Homo sapiens: one gene and its partners. The protein of the gene in region 4 purifies or fractionates together with the protein of the main gene of each other region. This does not show direct contact. Each region holds a gene or a part of one and is shown on either strand. Other genes may lie near its edges.

The links. The genes of interacting proteins can lie anywhere in the genome.
Region 1: the proteins of CRCP (region 4) and MGME1 purify together in Homo sapiens (affinity purification with mass spectrometry; one large-scale study listed by BioGRID and IntAct). This does not show direct contact.
Region 2: the proteins of CRCP (region 4) and GNAZ purify together in Homo sapiens (affinity purification with mass spectrometry; one large-scale study listed by BioGRID and IntAct). This does not show direct contact.
Region 3: the proteins of CRCP (region 4) and CSNK1G3 purify together in Homo sapiens (affinity purification with mass spectrometry; one large-scale study listed by BioGRID and IntAct). This does not show direct contact.

Annotation. Positions count from the first base shown.
Region 1 is NC_000020.11:17,975,518-17,979,017, forward strand, and holds part of MGME1 (mitochondrial genome maintenance exonuclease 1 isoform 2 precursor), read left to right. Parts: intron 1-166; coding exon 167-386; intron 387-3,500. UniProt on the Homo sapiens protein: Metal-dependent single-stranded DNA (ssDNA) exonuclease involved in mitochondrial genome maintenance. Has preference for 5'-3' exonuclease activity but is also capable of endonuclease activity on linear substrates.
Region 2 is NC_000022.11:23,077,019-23,080,518, forward strand, and holds part of GNAZ (guanine nucleotide-binding protein G(z) subunit alpha), read left to right. Parts: intron 1-3,500. UniProt on the Homo sapiens protein: Guanine nucleotide-binding proteins (G proteins) are involved as modulators or transducers in various transmembrane signaling systems.
Region 3 is NC_000005.10:123,518,677-123,522,176, forward strand, and holds part of CSNK1G3 (casein kinase I isoform gamma-3), read left to right. Parts: intron 1-3,500. UniProt on the Homo sapiens protein: Serine/threonine-protein kinase. Casein kinases are operationally defined by their preferential utilization of acidic proteins such as caseins as substrates. It can phosphorylate a large number of proteins. Participates in Wnt signaling.
Region 4 is NC_000007.14:66,134,611-66,139,896, forward strand, and holds part of CRCP (DNA-directed RNA polymerase III subunit RPC9), read left to right. Parts: intron 1-5,286. UniProt on the Homo sapiens protein: DNA-dependent RNA polymerase catalyzes the transcription of DNA into RNA using the four ribonucleoside triphosphates as substrates.

The sequences.
Region 1 (3,500 bases), on a different chromosome or scaffold from region 4:
TACACTCCAGCCTGGGCGACAGAGGGAGACTCCATCCAAAAAAAAAAAAAAGAAAAAAAAATGTCATTTTTAATTGTATTGTTTCAGGGCGTTTTAGAGTATTTGTTTTTCAGTGTTAGCTTTGTTTGTGTTTCCCCCCTCCCCTTTTCCCTGATTTTCTTTTCAGACGTCTTTTTACAAGGGAAACGGTTCCACGAAGCCTTGGAAAGCATACTTTCACCCCAGGAAACCTTAAAAGAGAGAGATGAAAATCTCCTCAAGTCTGGTTACATTGAAAGTGTCCAGCATATTCTGAAAGATGTCAGTGGAGTGCGAGCTCTTGAAAGTGCTGTTCAACATGAAACCTTAAACTATATAGGTCTGCTGGACTGTGTGGCTGAGTATCAGTAAGTATGAGATTGGAGGTGAATTAATACAGCGTAGGACAGATGGTGCCTGTCAAAGGTGTGCCTGTAGGTACTGTAGCCTCTGTCTGTTTAATGTCCAGACCTTTGTGCTAGGTAAAAGAATTGGGTGGGGCGGGGTTGAGAACAGGTACAAGGAGAAGAGCCACGTAACCTTTGTCATCCAGTACTCCAAAATCAAATTGTTTGCTGGAGAAAGGTATATTCTTTGTTTGTTTGTTTTGTTTTGAGACGGAGTGTCACCCAAGCTGGAGTGCAGTGGTGCAATCTTGGCTCACTGCAACCTCCGTCTCCCAGGTTCAAGCGGTTCTCCTGCCTCAGCCTCCTGAGTAGCTGGGACTACAGGCATGCACCACCGCACCTGGCTAATTTTTGTATTTTTAGTAGAGACAGGGTTTCACCATGTTGGCCAGGCTGGTCTCAAACTCCCGACCTCAAGTGATCCATCCACCTTGGTTTCCCAAAGTGCTGGGATTACAGGCGTGAGCCACTGCACCTGGCCGAGATTTTTCAATCTCCCTAACATGGCCTGTTTGCCAGCCTGTCCTTCCCCTCCCCCAAAGCAAGGTACCTGCCATAAGATCCAATTTCATTCCTGCGTTTTCTTTCCTGTTTTTCTAAAGATAGCACCATGATCTGTTGGTTCTGAAAATCAACTCTTCCTGGCTTCCAGGCAGTGCTTGACATGGATCAGAGATCTGAACTTACTAAAGCTTCCCATGGTTGTTTTGTTTTGTTTTGTTTCGTTTTGTTTTTTGAGACGGAGTTTTGCTCTTGTTGCCCAGGCTGGAGTGCAGTGGTGCGATTTCAGCTCACTGCAACCTCCATCTCCTAGGTTCAAGCTATTATCTTGCCTCAGCCTCCCAAGTAGCTGGGATTACAGGCATGCGCCACCATGTGTGGCTGATTTTGTATTTTTAGTAGAGATGGGGTTTCTCCATGTTGGTCAGGCTGGTCTCGAACTTCGGACCTCAGGTGATCCGCCTGCCTCAGCCTCCCAAAGTGCTAGGATTGTAGGCATGAGCCACCACGCCCGGTCCCCATGGTTTTTATATCGTAGCTGTCTTACTGTTTTACTCAGGTACTTCAGAGTCCAAGTGTTACAGGAAAGGGGTCCTGATCCAGACCCCGAGAGGGTTCTTCGATCTCGGGCAAGAAAGAATTTAGGTTGAAGGCAGGCACAGTGGCTCACGCCTGTAATCCCAGCACTTTGGGAGGCCGAGGTGGGCAGATCACCTGAGGTCAGGAGTTCAAGACCAGCCTAGCCAACATGGCAAAACTCCGTCTCTACTAAAAATACAAAAATTAGCCAGGCGCAGTGGTGTGTGCCTATAGTCCCAGCTACTCGGGAGTCTGAGGCAGGAGAATCACTTTAACCCGGGAGGCAGAAGTTGCAGTGAACCGAGATGGTGCCACTGCACTCCAGCCTGAGCAACAGGTGAGACTCTGTCTCAAAAAAAAAAAAATAAAAGAAAGAAAAGAAAAAGCATTCAGGATGAGTCTGCAGTGCAAAGTAAAAGCAGGTTTATTAATAAAGTAAAGTAGTGGAAGTATAGCTACTCCATAGACAGAGCAGGGCGTTCCTGAAAGTAAGAGGAGGAACACTTCCACCCTAAGTACAGTGCTCATATATATAAGATAAAAAAAGAGATCTTGGGGAGATGTGCTCTACTGCAAGGGTTTGTGATAAAGGATTAATTTTCTTAATTATTATATTTTGCAAGAATCGATACTATCTTTAAAGCAAAATTAGGAATGCCTTCGTTCTCCAGATATCAGGGTATCTGGACACTCCCAAGTCTGGGTCTGTTTAGTAAACATTATTAATTTGTTCCCTTAACCTTAAACATCTAGAGGCTATGAATGCCTGACTTTCTGGGAATGCAGCCCAGCAAGGCCCAGCCTCACTTTCCTAGCCCTCACTCAAGATGGAGTTGCTCTCGTTCGAACGCCTCTGATACAAAGGTGGCTACAACCTGCAGGTACCCCTAATCCAAATAAGGCAAGCGATCACTAAGAACAAGATAGAAAAATCCGTTCATGTAAACCTTGAAGCTCTAGTTAAAATTTAAGTTTAAAAGCTTGTCTATTCCACAGCCCAATACAAATTCGTAAACTTTCTTAAAACATTATGAGATTTTTTTTTGGTTATTTATTTATTTATTTTTAGTTCATCAGCTATTGTGTGGCCCAAGACAATTCTTCCAATGTGGGCCAGGAAGCCGAAAGAGTGGGCACCCTTGATAGTCTGAAAACTGTTTAGACCACCTAATGGTTTTATTTTTTATTTATTTATTTTTGAGACGGAGTTTCACTCTTGTTGCCCAGGTTGGAGTGCAATGGCGTGATCTTGGCTCACTGTAACCTCTGCCTCCTGGGTTCAAGCGATTCTCCTGCCTCAGCCTCCCAAGTAGCTGGGATTAGAGGTGCACGCCACCACACCCGGCTAATTTTTGTGTTATTAGTAGAGATGGGGTTTCGCCATGTTGGCCAGGCTGGTCTCGAACTCCTGACCTCAGGTGATCCACCCACCTCAGCCTCCCAAAGTGCTGAGATTACAGACGTGAGCCACCGCGCCTGGCCTAGACCACCTAATGGTTTTATAGCACAACTGCGTCATATCTGAGAAGAGCCCTGTATACCAAGAGATTTAATAGACTTTGGTTGCCTTTTAGATAAACCAAGGAAGCCATACAGTCACCTCCACCCAAGGCCTACAAGAAGTTCCTGACACCCAATGCTTGTCATAGAGATGATAAAATATGTCCATAGCACTGTTGTTTGTTTTTTGCTTTTTAAGTCAACATCAACCTTGGTAATATGAACATTTTTGAAACTACGGTTTTTTTTTGTTGTTTTTGTTTTTGTTTTTGAGACAGAGTCTTGCTCTGTCACCCAGACTGGAGTGTGGTGGCCCAATCTCAGTTCACTGCAACCTCTGCCTCCTGGGTTCAAGCAATTCTCCTGTGTCAGCCTCCCCAAGTGGCTAGGACTACAGGCACCCACCACCACGCCTGGCTAATTTTTTGTGTTTTTAGTAGAGATGGGGTTTGGACATGTTGCCCAGGCTGGTCTCGAGCTCCGGGCCTTGAGTGA
Region 2 (3,500 bases), on a different chromosome or scaffold from region 4:
CGTCCAAAGCATGCTGTGCTGAAGAGGATTCTAAGGCTGTGCTGCAGCCCAGAGGGAAAGAGTCATGGTCGATTAGTGATGTCTGCAGCGGGCACGGGAGGCAGGATTTAGATGAGCTTGCCAGTGACTGGTGAACCTCACCACTGTACCCCCTCCTATCTAGCAGCTTTAACCCACCCTATCTCTCCTTACATGCCCCTTCCTTAGTGACACTGATGCTAACCCCTTATTGGGAAGGACTGGCCTCCGTCTTCCTGAGTCCCATGAGCAGCTCAGGTCATTGCTTGCTGACTGTCTCTTCTCTCATTTGATGCCTCACTCCCTGTAGTGACCTCAGGGTCCAACCCCATGCTTCGTTCATGGCAGCCTCTTTCTGTACACTGAAGAATGAATAAGTGAATGAGTGGTAGAGACTCAACCACTCTACAAGGCCGGGAGCCTCCTCTTGGATGTACACCTGATGTTGATCTCTGTTCCAGCAAGGAGCCCCTAGAAGCCTTCTTGGAATTGGGAGGCTGGATGGCCACGGAAACAAGGTGCTAAACCGTGTGGTTTCAGCTCCAGGTGTTGCAGGAGTGGGGTCAGCAAGGGAGGAGGGGGCAAGGTGACTAAGGAGGGCTGAGGCATGTAAAGTACCAGGCTCTGTGTTTGTGGGGCCCGGTGGTCCTGTCTGACCTTGGCTATGGAGCAGCTAATCAGGCTTCCCCAGAGGCAAAGCTGGGAAAACCTTCCAAGCTGCCAAGAGGGGCCTTCTGAAGACCCTTCTGACTATGGGTGGGAGAACTTGGCACCTACAGCCTTCACCCTGACCCCAGCAGGCCCTGACCCCCTGTGAACTGGTGGTACCTCACCCCTACTCCTCTTGCACCCCCACACTAGTGGCCCTACCCCTAACTGTGGCCAGGCCAGGGGAGGAGCAACTCCACCATGAGGGCTTGGCCCTCATGCCTCCTCCTGCCCAGCTCTGCATGGCATGTCCCTCTGGCCTTAGCTGCCCCAGCTGCATGTGGCCTCAGGCCAGCCCCACCCAGCCCTCTTGCTTCCTGTGGCCCTGTAGAGTGGCTACCAGGACCCCTGCTGGTGAGGGCGGGTGCGGGTGGCCTGTCTCCGAGCTGGGCTTTCCTCCAGCATGGTCACCCCCTCACCCGCTCAGTTACCTCTGATATGCTGTGCAAACATATTTCTCGATGAAATGCTGGGAAGAAAAATAATTAGAGTGTTGCCTCCATTATCCAATTTCGGATTAATCAAACTCTCTTTGTCCTCGGCCAAAATCTATTCATTTCCCTTAAACACTGGGCCAGTGCCAGGCATTGATTTCCTCTATGATAACACCACGCACGCAAGCACAGCCATGCCCAGCCTTGCCCCACCCCGTGGCTGGGACACAGAGGCACTGGTGGGGCTGCCCTTGTCCCCCCAACACTGCCCACCTCCTCCAAGGAGTCTCCTGGCCACACTGACACCCCCATCTCTGTCGTGGCTCCTGGAGTGCTTGGCCTCAGTCTCCAGTGTGTTTGTCTTGCCACGCTGGCTGTTCTGGGGCTCTCCCTCCTCCCAGGATGGTGTGGAATGGATAGAGGAGGTGTGGAGGGTGTGGCCACTGCGGTCCCCAGGGACCACAGGGAATGGGCTGCAGCCCCAGGCTCTGGGTGGGCCAGGGTTTGGGGGATTATCCCCATCACTGGCACAGGAAGAAGGCCAAGGGTGAGGGCCAGGGCTTCTAAGGGGGCTGAGGGGCCATGCAATGTATGTGGGGTGGGAGCACACTTGCAGGGGTAGCAACAGAAGCCCAGCCCCAAAGGGCTTACAAGATGAGGGGACATCCTGGCTCCCGGGCCTGAGGGCTTAGTCGTGGGGCAGCATCAGGATCGGCCAAGTCCAGGTGGGCGGGGGCTGTGCGTCTACCCGTGTCCACCCAGGGAAGGCCACGGGCCTTTCCAGAAGACCTCCCAGAAGTCCCCAACTATCCCCTCCGTGAGCCACGTTGACCGATTCCTCACTCAGTCACTACGAGGGCCTGGGATTGATTTATTGGCACCTGCTTGGTGCTAGGTCCATGTGGGCACATGGGATACATCAATGAACAAACAGACCAACAGTCCCTGCCCTATGGCACAGTGGGAAAGAGGTGGGCGATAAACACTCTAAGTAAATTATACAGTGTGCTAGAAAGGGACCATGCTTGGGGCAAGGCAGCACACGTGGTGTGGCTGTGTGCGAATATGGGGGTCATTTTCCATCGTAAATAGGATGGGCAGGGAGGCCTCCTAAGGAAGGGACATCTGAGCCATTGGATGGGGAGAGGGCGCGGAAGCGAAGTCCACTTGGCTTTCTGGACAAAGAGTTTTCCAGGAGGAAGGAACAGCCAGTGCACAGGCCCTGAGTTAAGAGTGAGGGATGGTGCTAGAGAGGCAGCTAGAGGCAGCATGGCAGGAGTGGGGGAGGGGGAGCATGGGCGTGGGAGTCAGAGAGGCCAGGCATTGCACAGCCCTGGTGCCCTGGCTGGACTTTGACTCGGGGTCTGCCCATGTCAAGCAAGCGTCGGGAGCAAACATGAGAAGGTTTCAAGCACAAGTGAGACATACTCTGCCTCATTTTTACAAGGATGCCCCTGGCTGCTGGTGGAGCACAGGGCACAGGGGGCTGGAGACAGCAAGACCAGAGAAGTCATACTGCTGCAAAACAGATGAGAGGCTGGGGCTGGCTAGCGGGAGTGAGTGGTAGAATTCTGGACAGTCAGGGCAATTAAGGGTTCCCCTGAGGCTGGCTGGGTCCAGCCACAACCTGTGGTGCCAGCCTCAGTTCTCAAGGAAAGGGACGCAGGGAAGGCGTGCTGGGCATGTAGTGGACACCACTCATGCCCCTAGGTCCCCAAGGTAGGGGATGGGATTGTGGGATGCCACACATGGAGGCAGAGGGCAGGAGGTTGCAGGGCCTCAAAGACCCAGAAGGTGAAATCAGATTCCCCACTCAAGTGAGGGTTTGATGGAGTCAGCAGTTTCCTTCCCTGGGGAAACTGGGGAGCCAGGAGCCTGGGGCTACGGCTCTCTCCAAGGCAGCAACCTCTTTGATTTGGCTCTTAATGAAGGCCCCACTTCTTCTCTGCTGTCATGGCCACCCTCTCCTCCATAGGTGGAACCTTTGCATATTGATTTATTTATTTACTCCTGGCCCAGAGAAATATCTGGCTTGATTTCCTCCTGAGTCAGTGTTCCTCAGGCGACACTATCACCCTTTGTCTGGTCAGCCGTGGTGGCTGTGGGCCAAAAGACAGGACAGGTGGCTGAGGGTGTCCAGAGCCAGGACAGCACAGGGTTACAGGGAAGGGCCTCCCTGTTCATCTCATCTCCCCGGTCATCTCATCTCCCCTTCCTTTAGCAGAAGGACACTGGGAGGCCCAGCCGGGGCATAGCCTGGGGTTGTCTGTAGGATGGGGACACTGTGTTCACTAACCGTAGTCCTTCCTCCCATCTGCTCGGACTATGGCTTCAGGATAG
Region 3 (3,500 bases), on a different chromosome or scaffold from region 4:
AAGGTTATCATGGTTGGTTTCTACTAATCAGGAGATACCTTCTGCAATTGGTGTTGGGATCACATTTTTCTGAGTTAGATGGAAGAGGGAGGATATTTTAAAAAAATTGTGGGAAGGAAGAATTTGGGGGATATGGATGTTAGAGAGATGATAAATAGTGATCGCTGTGTCTACCTGTTTTGAAGCGATTCTCGTGCTTCAGCGTCCCAAGTAGCTGGGATTACAGGTGCATGCCACTGCACCCAGCTAATTTTTGTATTTTTAGTATACATGGGCTTTCTCCATGCTGGCCAGGCTGGTCTCGAACTCCTGGCCTCAAGTGATCTGCCTGCCTTGGCCTCCCAAAGTGCTGGGATTATAGGCTTGAGTCACCGTGGCTGGCAAGTTACTTTTTGAGACGGAGTTTTACTCTTGTTTCCCAGGCTGGAGTGCCATGGCATGATCTCGGTTCATTGCAACCCCTGCCTCTTGGGTTCAAGTGATTCTCCTGCCTCAGCATCCTGAGTAGCTGGGATTACAGGCAGTCGCCACCTTTCCTGGCTAATTGTTGTATGTTTAGTAGAGACGGGGTTTTGCCATGTTGGCCAGGCTGGTCTTGAACTCCTGACCTCAGGTGATCTGCCTGCCTCGGTCTCCCAAAGTGCTGGATTACAGGCATGAGCCACTGTGCCCGGCTGGGTCTGAATATTTTAGGAGCTAAAAACACTACTTTATTTTTTCATTGGCTAACTTTGAATCAATAAAATAGGTGGTGAAGTTGAAAGATTATAATTTTTTTCTATGAAACTCATGAAGCCATTTAATTTTACATTAAAATTTTTTCCTATAAACTTGTTTAAATTTTTTTTTCTGCATTGTTGCTTTCCTTCCTCACCATGAAGTTGCCCATACCTTTGATTTCATTGATTACTTTGCTTATCATATCTAGGGGAGAATAAGTGCATTGAGGAAATGGGAGTTTCTTGGTCAGAAGGATTTATTTTGAATCCTGGAATTCCAGTGAGATTGGAGGAAAGGATGGTTTTTACATATTTTGAGAGCAGCAGAGTTGGTAAGGGGTTGGGGAGGAAGGGAAGGACCATAGGATTTTAGACTTAAAATGAATCATAGGAAGATTGAAATGCTCAAGCCACACACCTGATTAGTAGAACTCTTATATCCTAATTACTAGTGGAGTGCTCTTTCTGAGTAAGAATTAGGAGGCCATAATAATCTTGTCTACTTTACAGTTTTGCTCAGGACTGTGGGCTACCAATGTAAATCAGTCAGCTAATCACCTTTAGTACAGATACCTGTGTTCTTAGGCTTTGGAAAAATTTAACCAGAAGTTTTCTTTTTTTTCCAGTAAAATAAGTAAACAGACAAAATTTTTCAGCTTGCCTCAAGCAGTCAACAACAATGACAACATCACACAGAAAGACAGGCAGACACACACACATGGAATAATCTTAAACCTAGCCTGCTTAAATGAAAATGCAAAAGCAGACTGTTTGGGACAATTCATTATTTTATTTTCAAGAAAATGATCTTAAGCATTTCTTTACCATCAATATATGTAAATGAAAGGAATATATATGTGCATATATACTATACATGTATACATAGATACATATATGTATGGGTTGTAAGTATATGGAGTAAATCCATCCATCTTCTGGAAGAATATTTATGTTAATGTCAGTTGTTTATAAATGGTGAGATTTAGGATGATTTTTATTTTTATACTTCATTTACTTCTCTATATTGTTTGGGTTTTCAGCTGTCACTGTGCATTATTTCTACCATCAGAAAAAACAGTAATTTTTTTTTTTTTTTTGAGGGGGGTAGAATCTTGGGGTGGGATGTGTTTTCTACCAGTTTAGATTTTAATATATAACTGCTTTCCTTGTATATTACCATGAATAAAGTGTGCCTCAAATGTATTGATACTTTGCAGATTTCTTTATGTTTAAAATTGGATGTATTAAAATTACTTATCTTAAAATTTTAAATTGAAATTGGCCATATAATATCTTTTGGTACAAATATACATTATAAAATTAGTGGACTTCTGAATATTTTGAAATTATTGTGTTATTTATTTTTTTAGTTTGTTTGGTTTGACTTCAGGTGGTATACTAGGCAGTGTATTAGACTGTGATTTATTAGAGTTAAAATTATATTCAGAATTTCCTTTAGTAAAAAGGGAAGTGAAAATGTTTTTTTTCTTTACACCCACTGTGTGTCATGTTTATTTTCTATTTCTGTGAAATACTTATTTTATATTCTAGCAATGAATACTTTCAAGTGGCAGGCAAATATATTAGGTAATCAGGACAGAAGAGAGAAAATTTATGGTATTCTATAAGTCTTAGGGTGTGCAAATTTATGACTACAGGACCTTTTAATAAAATTCTAATTTGGAGTACAAAAATAGTCTAGTATTGTTTTGGAGATGAAACTAGTAGGTGTCAGTTTTAGATGACCTTGAAAAAAAGTGTTTATAGATGCATATTTTTTACAAAACATTATTTTCTTTTCTACATTTATTTTAGGGAATCTGACAACAGTCTGACTCTCCCTACTCCAAAAATGTAAATCTTTAAATCTTAAAGATGTGGAATCTTGTGATGCCAGTTTTTATTTTAAAAAAAGGATCTTTACTGAGTACTTTTTCTGTCATACGAGTATCAGGATATATTGTTGCTGATGTGTCTTTATATAATTGAGATTCTGCAAATGTTTGTAGTTAATAAAGTATCAAAATATAATCAGCTCCTTAAGATAATTGTTTTGAGTATTTTCTGATATCTATTGAAAGTCGATAACTAGAATGCATATTGTGAGTTTGCTTATTATTGTATGCTTTGCTGTTTACCTTAATACCTACTAATGAAGGTGGTTTTTTTAAGACTGAAAAAGAAATCCTGAGCATTTGGGAATGAGAATATCCAATAAGCTAAAATTAATTTTACTATACACACTTGTTTAAAAATTTCCAGTTGAAAATTAGTAATTTTTCTTCTGTGACAGAGTAAATGAAAGAAGAAAAATGGACAATTTTAAAGATAGTTCATGCAGTCCTTGCTATGGGCTGGGAATGCTAACATTTAACTAAATAGATGAGAGGAGGGAAGGATTTGTGGAGAAAGTTTTTACTAGTGGTTCTTGGCCCGAGTTCATATTACAGTTTTCTTGGGAGCTTAAAAAAAAAAGACAGATGTTGGGATTCTACCCATGCTAATTTATATTCCATAAATAATCAGTAGGGCCTGGAAAGGGCTAGGGCATTGATATATTTTAGGATTTCTACAGACGATTCCAGTGTCCTGCAGGGTTGAAAATAACTAATTTCTCCTTCTTTTTACACTCTCAGCCCTTTAAAAAAATGGCTTTCTTTTATTTTCCAACTGTCTTTTTAAAATTTGAGGTGGAGGTATGAAGATGACACAGAAGAAAATGCAAAGAAAATATTAGCAAGAGAATCAAGTTAAAGTAGTGGCTTCTGCTCATAGCTTCAT
Region 4 (5,286 bases):
TGCTTATTCTGCAAAATTAGCAGAGATTAATTTACATTCTCAAAAAAGACGGGTGAGGGGAAATGGAAATGCTTCATGGAAAAGAAGGCAAATTTAGGTCATAGGTAGAGATCTCAATCAAATGGGCCAAAATACAGTTTATTTATATCTGCTAACTCCCAACTGCTAGCATCTGACCACAGCATAACAAGCTTGGAATCGGGGAACCTGGGCTGTAGTCCAGTTTCTGCCCCTTATAGCACCATGACCTTGGAAAAGGTATTTGACCTCTCTGAGTTTCATTATCCTTACCACTGAATAAGGATCATCTGCTAAACTCACAAGGCTGGGGAAAGGGTGAAGGGTGGTGTCTTCATGGAAACAATATGTGTAGATGTCCTTTTTGGACTCCAGAAGCCATAAATGATGCAACCTTATTTATTAACCATTAATGTGAACAGGGCCAACCATTTCTATGTTATTAACACTGCTTCTTCCCTAATGATTCAATTCAGATAAACCTTACAAAGCACTTCACACCAAGAGCTGAGTATCAGGGCCACTTGGTTCTTACAGACGCAGTGCCTCCAAGCCAAAATTGGTAGAACCAATAGTTCTACTCTTAAAGCAGGACCTCTCTAGCCTCCCATTATCTAGATGAAAATGAGCTTACTAATTTAGAAACACAAGTGAGTATATTCTAGGCTAACCAAAGTAATTCTTCTCTAATTATTGAGAACATTAAATGTCACGAGCTGATCTCAAAATATTAGTAAAATAAGTTAAATTGTTTTGAAAGGAAGGAAATGTGATAATGTAGAAATGGGGAAAAAACAAGACAGAATTGAAATATTATATTAATCAAGTACTAACCCTGGTTTGAATGGGTAAATGCAGAAGACCTTTCTTCCTTCTTTTTTTATTTATTTATCTTTTTTTTCAAAATTATACTTTAAGTTCTAGGGTACATGTGCACAACGTGCAAGTTTGTTACATATGTATACATGTGCCATGAGGAACAAATCTTAATGGGGTTTAAAAATCTTTTCTTGGCCAGGTGTGGCGGCTCATGCCTGTAATCCCAGCACTTTGGGAGGCTGAGGTGGGTGGATCACCTGAGGTTGGGAGTTCTAACCAGCCTGACCAACATGGAGAAACCCCATCTCTACTAAAAATACAAAATTAGCTGGGCGTGCTGGCACATGCCTGTAATCCCAACTACTAGGGAGGCTGAGGCAGGAGAATCGCTTGAACCTGGGAGACGGAGGTTGCGGTGAGCCAAGATCGCGCCCTTGCGCTCCAGCCTGGACAACAAGAGCAAAACTCTGTCTCAAAAAAAAAAAAAAATCTTTTCTTGGAGTCCCAGTTTGTATGACATATCGCATCAACCCCACTCCCAGAATTCAGACCAAATTGGATGAAAAGTAGGGTTGACAAGTTAAAGTACTTTTTATAAAGTTGATCAGTGAAGTCTTTTGACATTTGTGTTTGCTTGAGGCAAAAGTGGCTTGATCATCTTCTGTGAGTTCTTGTAGTTTCCAGTTCCTTTTCTTGGTCTGGAATGAGTTCAACCTTTTAAAATTGAAAACGTCATACATCAAGAGTTTACATGAGAAGAAAACTAGCCCGTTTTTTTTTTATTGGTTTGTTTTTTTTTGAGATGGAGTTTCACTCTTGTGAGTTCATGCTGGAGTGCAATGGTGCAATCTCGGCTCACCGCAACCTCTGCCTTCGGGTTCAAGTGATTCCTCCTGCCTCAGCCTCCACAGTAGCTGGGATTACAGGCATCTGCCACCACACCTGGCTAGTTTTGTATTTTTAGTAGAGACGTGGTTTCTCCATGTTGATCAGGCTGGTCTCGAACTCCCAACCTCAGGTGATCCATCCACCTCGACCTCTCAAAGTTCTGGGATTACAGGTGTGAGTCACCGTGCCTGGCCAATTTTGTATTTTTAGTAGAGATGGGGTTTCACTCTATTGGCCAGGCTGGTCTTGAACTCCTGACCTCAGGTGATCCTCCTGCTTTGGCTGCCCAAAGTGCTAGCATTTCAGGTGTGAGCCACCGTGCCTGGCCTATGTATACATTTTTGAATTGACTTGTTGATATCTGGAACAAATCCTGCTGAGATTCTGATTGGGATTGCCTTACATCTATAGGTCAGTTTTGGGGGAGAATTGACATCTTGACAATATTAATAATTCAAGATCGGACGGGCACGGTGGCTCACACCTATAATCCCAGCACTTTGGGAGGCTGAGGCAGGTGGATCACGAGGTCAGGAGTTCAAGACCATCCTGGCCAACATGGTGAAACCCCGTCTCTACTAAAAATACAAAAAATTAGCCGGGTGTGGTGACGGGGGCGCCTGTAGTCCCAGCTACTCGGGAGGCTGAGGCAGGAGAATCACTTGAACCTGGGAGATGGAGGTTGCAGTGAGCCGAGATTGCGCCACTGCACTCCAGCCTGGCGACAGAGCGAGACTGTCTCAAAAAAAAATTTAATAATAATAATAATTTAAGATCAGTCAAAGGTTAAAAAAAAACAACCCGCCAATACTGAACCTTCTAGTCCATGAAAACAGTGTAGCATACAGGTTCTGCACAAATTTTTTTAGATTTATACCTATTTCATAATTTTGCGTGCTATTGTAAATGGTGCTCATTTCTAGTTGTTGATTGCTGATATAGAAGTACAGCTGACTTTATATTGATCTTATGCCCTCCAGCCTTGATAAATCCACTTATTAGTTCTAGGAACTTTTTTAGTGTATTCTTTAGGATTTTCTGTGCAGAAAGTCGTGGTATTTGCAAACAGAGTTTTACTTCTTTCTCATCTGTATGGCTTTTCCTTCTTTTTCTTATTTCATTGCCCTGGCTGGGGCCTCCAGGATGATGTTGAGTAGGAGTGGTGAGAGCAGACATCCTCATCTTGTCCCTGATATTAAGGGAAAACAGTCAGTCCTTCACCATTAAGTATGATGCTAGTTTAGGTTTTCCATGAATGTCTTTTACCAGGTTTAGGAAGTTCAGATTGCTGAGATTGGATGTTGAATGTTGTCACTTGCTTTTTCTATATCTATAAAGCTAAAAAGATTTGTAGCCTTTTGGCTGTATCTTTTTGTTTATTTTTGTTTTTAGTAGTTACTGAAGGGATCCCTACTAGGTTACTAGTAGGGTTAATAATATGCATGCCTGACCATTTATAGTCCAGAGTTAATATTTTACCAGTTGGTGTATATAAGTCTCTTTACCTTCTTTTTGTGTTATGGTTGTATTTATAACATATAATCTACATACATTGAAACATATAATCTGCATACTATTAGTAGTGTTTTTACATTGACTTTCTGTATTCTTACATATTTTAAAGAACTTAAGAGAACAAAAATAGTCTTTTTGTCATCATTTCTTTTCCTCTCTATTCCTGAAGTGCCCTGCGTCCTTTTTATCATTTACTTCACCAGGAAGAACTGCCTTTGGCACTTTTCTGAGAACAGGTCTCTTGGCTACAAATTCTCTTATTTTCATTTAGCTGAGAATGTCATTATTTCCTTTCATTCCTGAAGGATAATTTCACTGGGTTGATTGATCTTTTCCTTCAGAACTTTTAAGATGTCATTTCAGTGACTTCTGGCTGTCACAGTTTTTGATTAGAAATCTGTGATCAGGCTGGATGCAGTGGCTCATGCCTATTATCTCAGCACTTTGGGAGGCTGAGGCGGGAAGATCACTTGAGGCCAGGAGTTTGAGACCAGCTTGGGCATCATTGTGAGACTCCATCTCTATATTTTGAAAAATAATTAATTAAAAAAAAATTTTAATCCGCTATCACTCTAACCCTAATGTGTCATTTTCCTCTGGCTGCTGTTAAGATTTTTTTTATCCCCCTCTACTCCTACTGCTTCACTTCACTAGCCTGGGCGCGGTGGCTCACGCCTGTAATCCCAGCACTTTGGGAGGCCGAGGCTGGCAGATCACGAGGTCAGGAGATCGAGACCATCCTGGCTAACACGGTGAAACCTCGTCTCTACTAAAAAAAAAAAAAAAAAAAAAAATCAGCTGGGCATGGTGGCGGGCGCCTGTAGTCCCAGCTACTCGGGAGGCTGAGATAGGAGAATGGCGTGAACCCGGGAGGCAGAGCTTGCAGTGAGCCAAGATGCGCCACTGCACTCCGGCCTGGGGGACAGAGCGAGACTCCGTCTCAAAAAAAAAAAAAAATTTAAATAAATTTCAAAAAAGATTTTCAAGTCTTTGGTCTTCAATAATTTGATAATGATATATTTCAGCTTTTTTTTCCCCAGTTTATTTTTGCTGAGCTTCTTGATTATGTAAATTTATGTTTCTTACTACATTTGTGAAGTTCTCAGCTATTTTTGAAATATTTTTTCTATCCCAATCTCTTTCTCCTCCTTTTCTTCAGCTCCCAGAAACACAACTGGTAAACCTCTGATACTGCTGTACAGGTCTTTGAGGCTCTGTTCCTTTTTAAAAAAATTTGTAGTTCAAATGGAATAATTTCTCTTTTTTTTCCTGTCTCTTTTTTTAGTAGAGATAAGGTTTCACTCTGTTGCCCAAGCTGAAGTGCGGTGGCACCCTCAGGCTCACTGCAGCCTCAGAGTCTAATGGGATAATTTCTGTTGATCTGTCTGTATATGCACAGATTGTTCTGGCATCTTCCGTTATCAAGCCTACCAGTGAATTTTTCATTTCAGGTATTTTTCAATTCTAAAGTTTCCATTTGGTTATTTGTTATAACTTCTATTCTTTCCTGAGAACTTGTATTATTCCATTCATTTCAGGAATGTTTACTTTTTCCCCCAGTTATTATAATAGTTAGAATCTTGATAATTTTAACATGTCATCATGGGCTTGGCATCTGTTGATTATCTTTTCCCTGGAGAATGAGTCGTATTTTCGTGGTCGAGGTAATTGTAGATTGTATCCTGGACATTTGAGTATTATATTGTTTAGACTCTGGGTCCTGTTAAAAGCTTCTGGTTTGTGTTTTAGGAGGCTGTCAATCCAATTAGGTTCAGACTTCAAGTCGGTCTTGCCTTCCGGGGCAAGGATTTCAGTGTCATTTGGTTTTGAAACCCACTCTGGGTCTTTGCATATGGGACTGGACTGGCGGTGGAACTTGCTCCCTTCTCACTTGGGGTCTTTGCTGTGCTGGGTCTGTTCCATGCTTGCTGTTTTGGTGCTGTTCTGCACATAAACAGCTCAGGTGAATCTAGAATTTGTGTTGATTGATACTCAAATTTGGAGGAGTCCCCTTCTCTAGCTCTCCTCTCTGGAACTTCCCTGCTC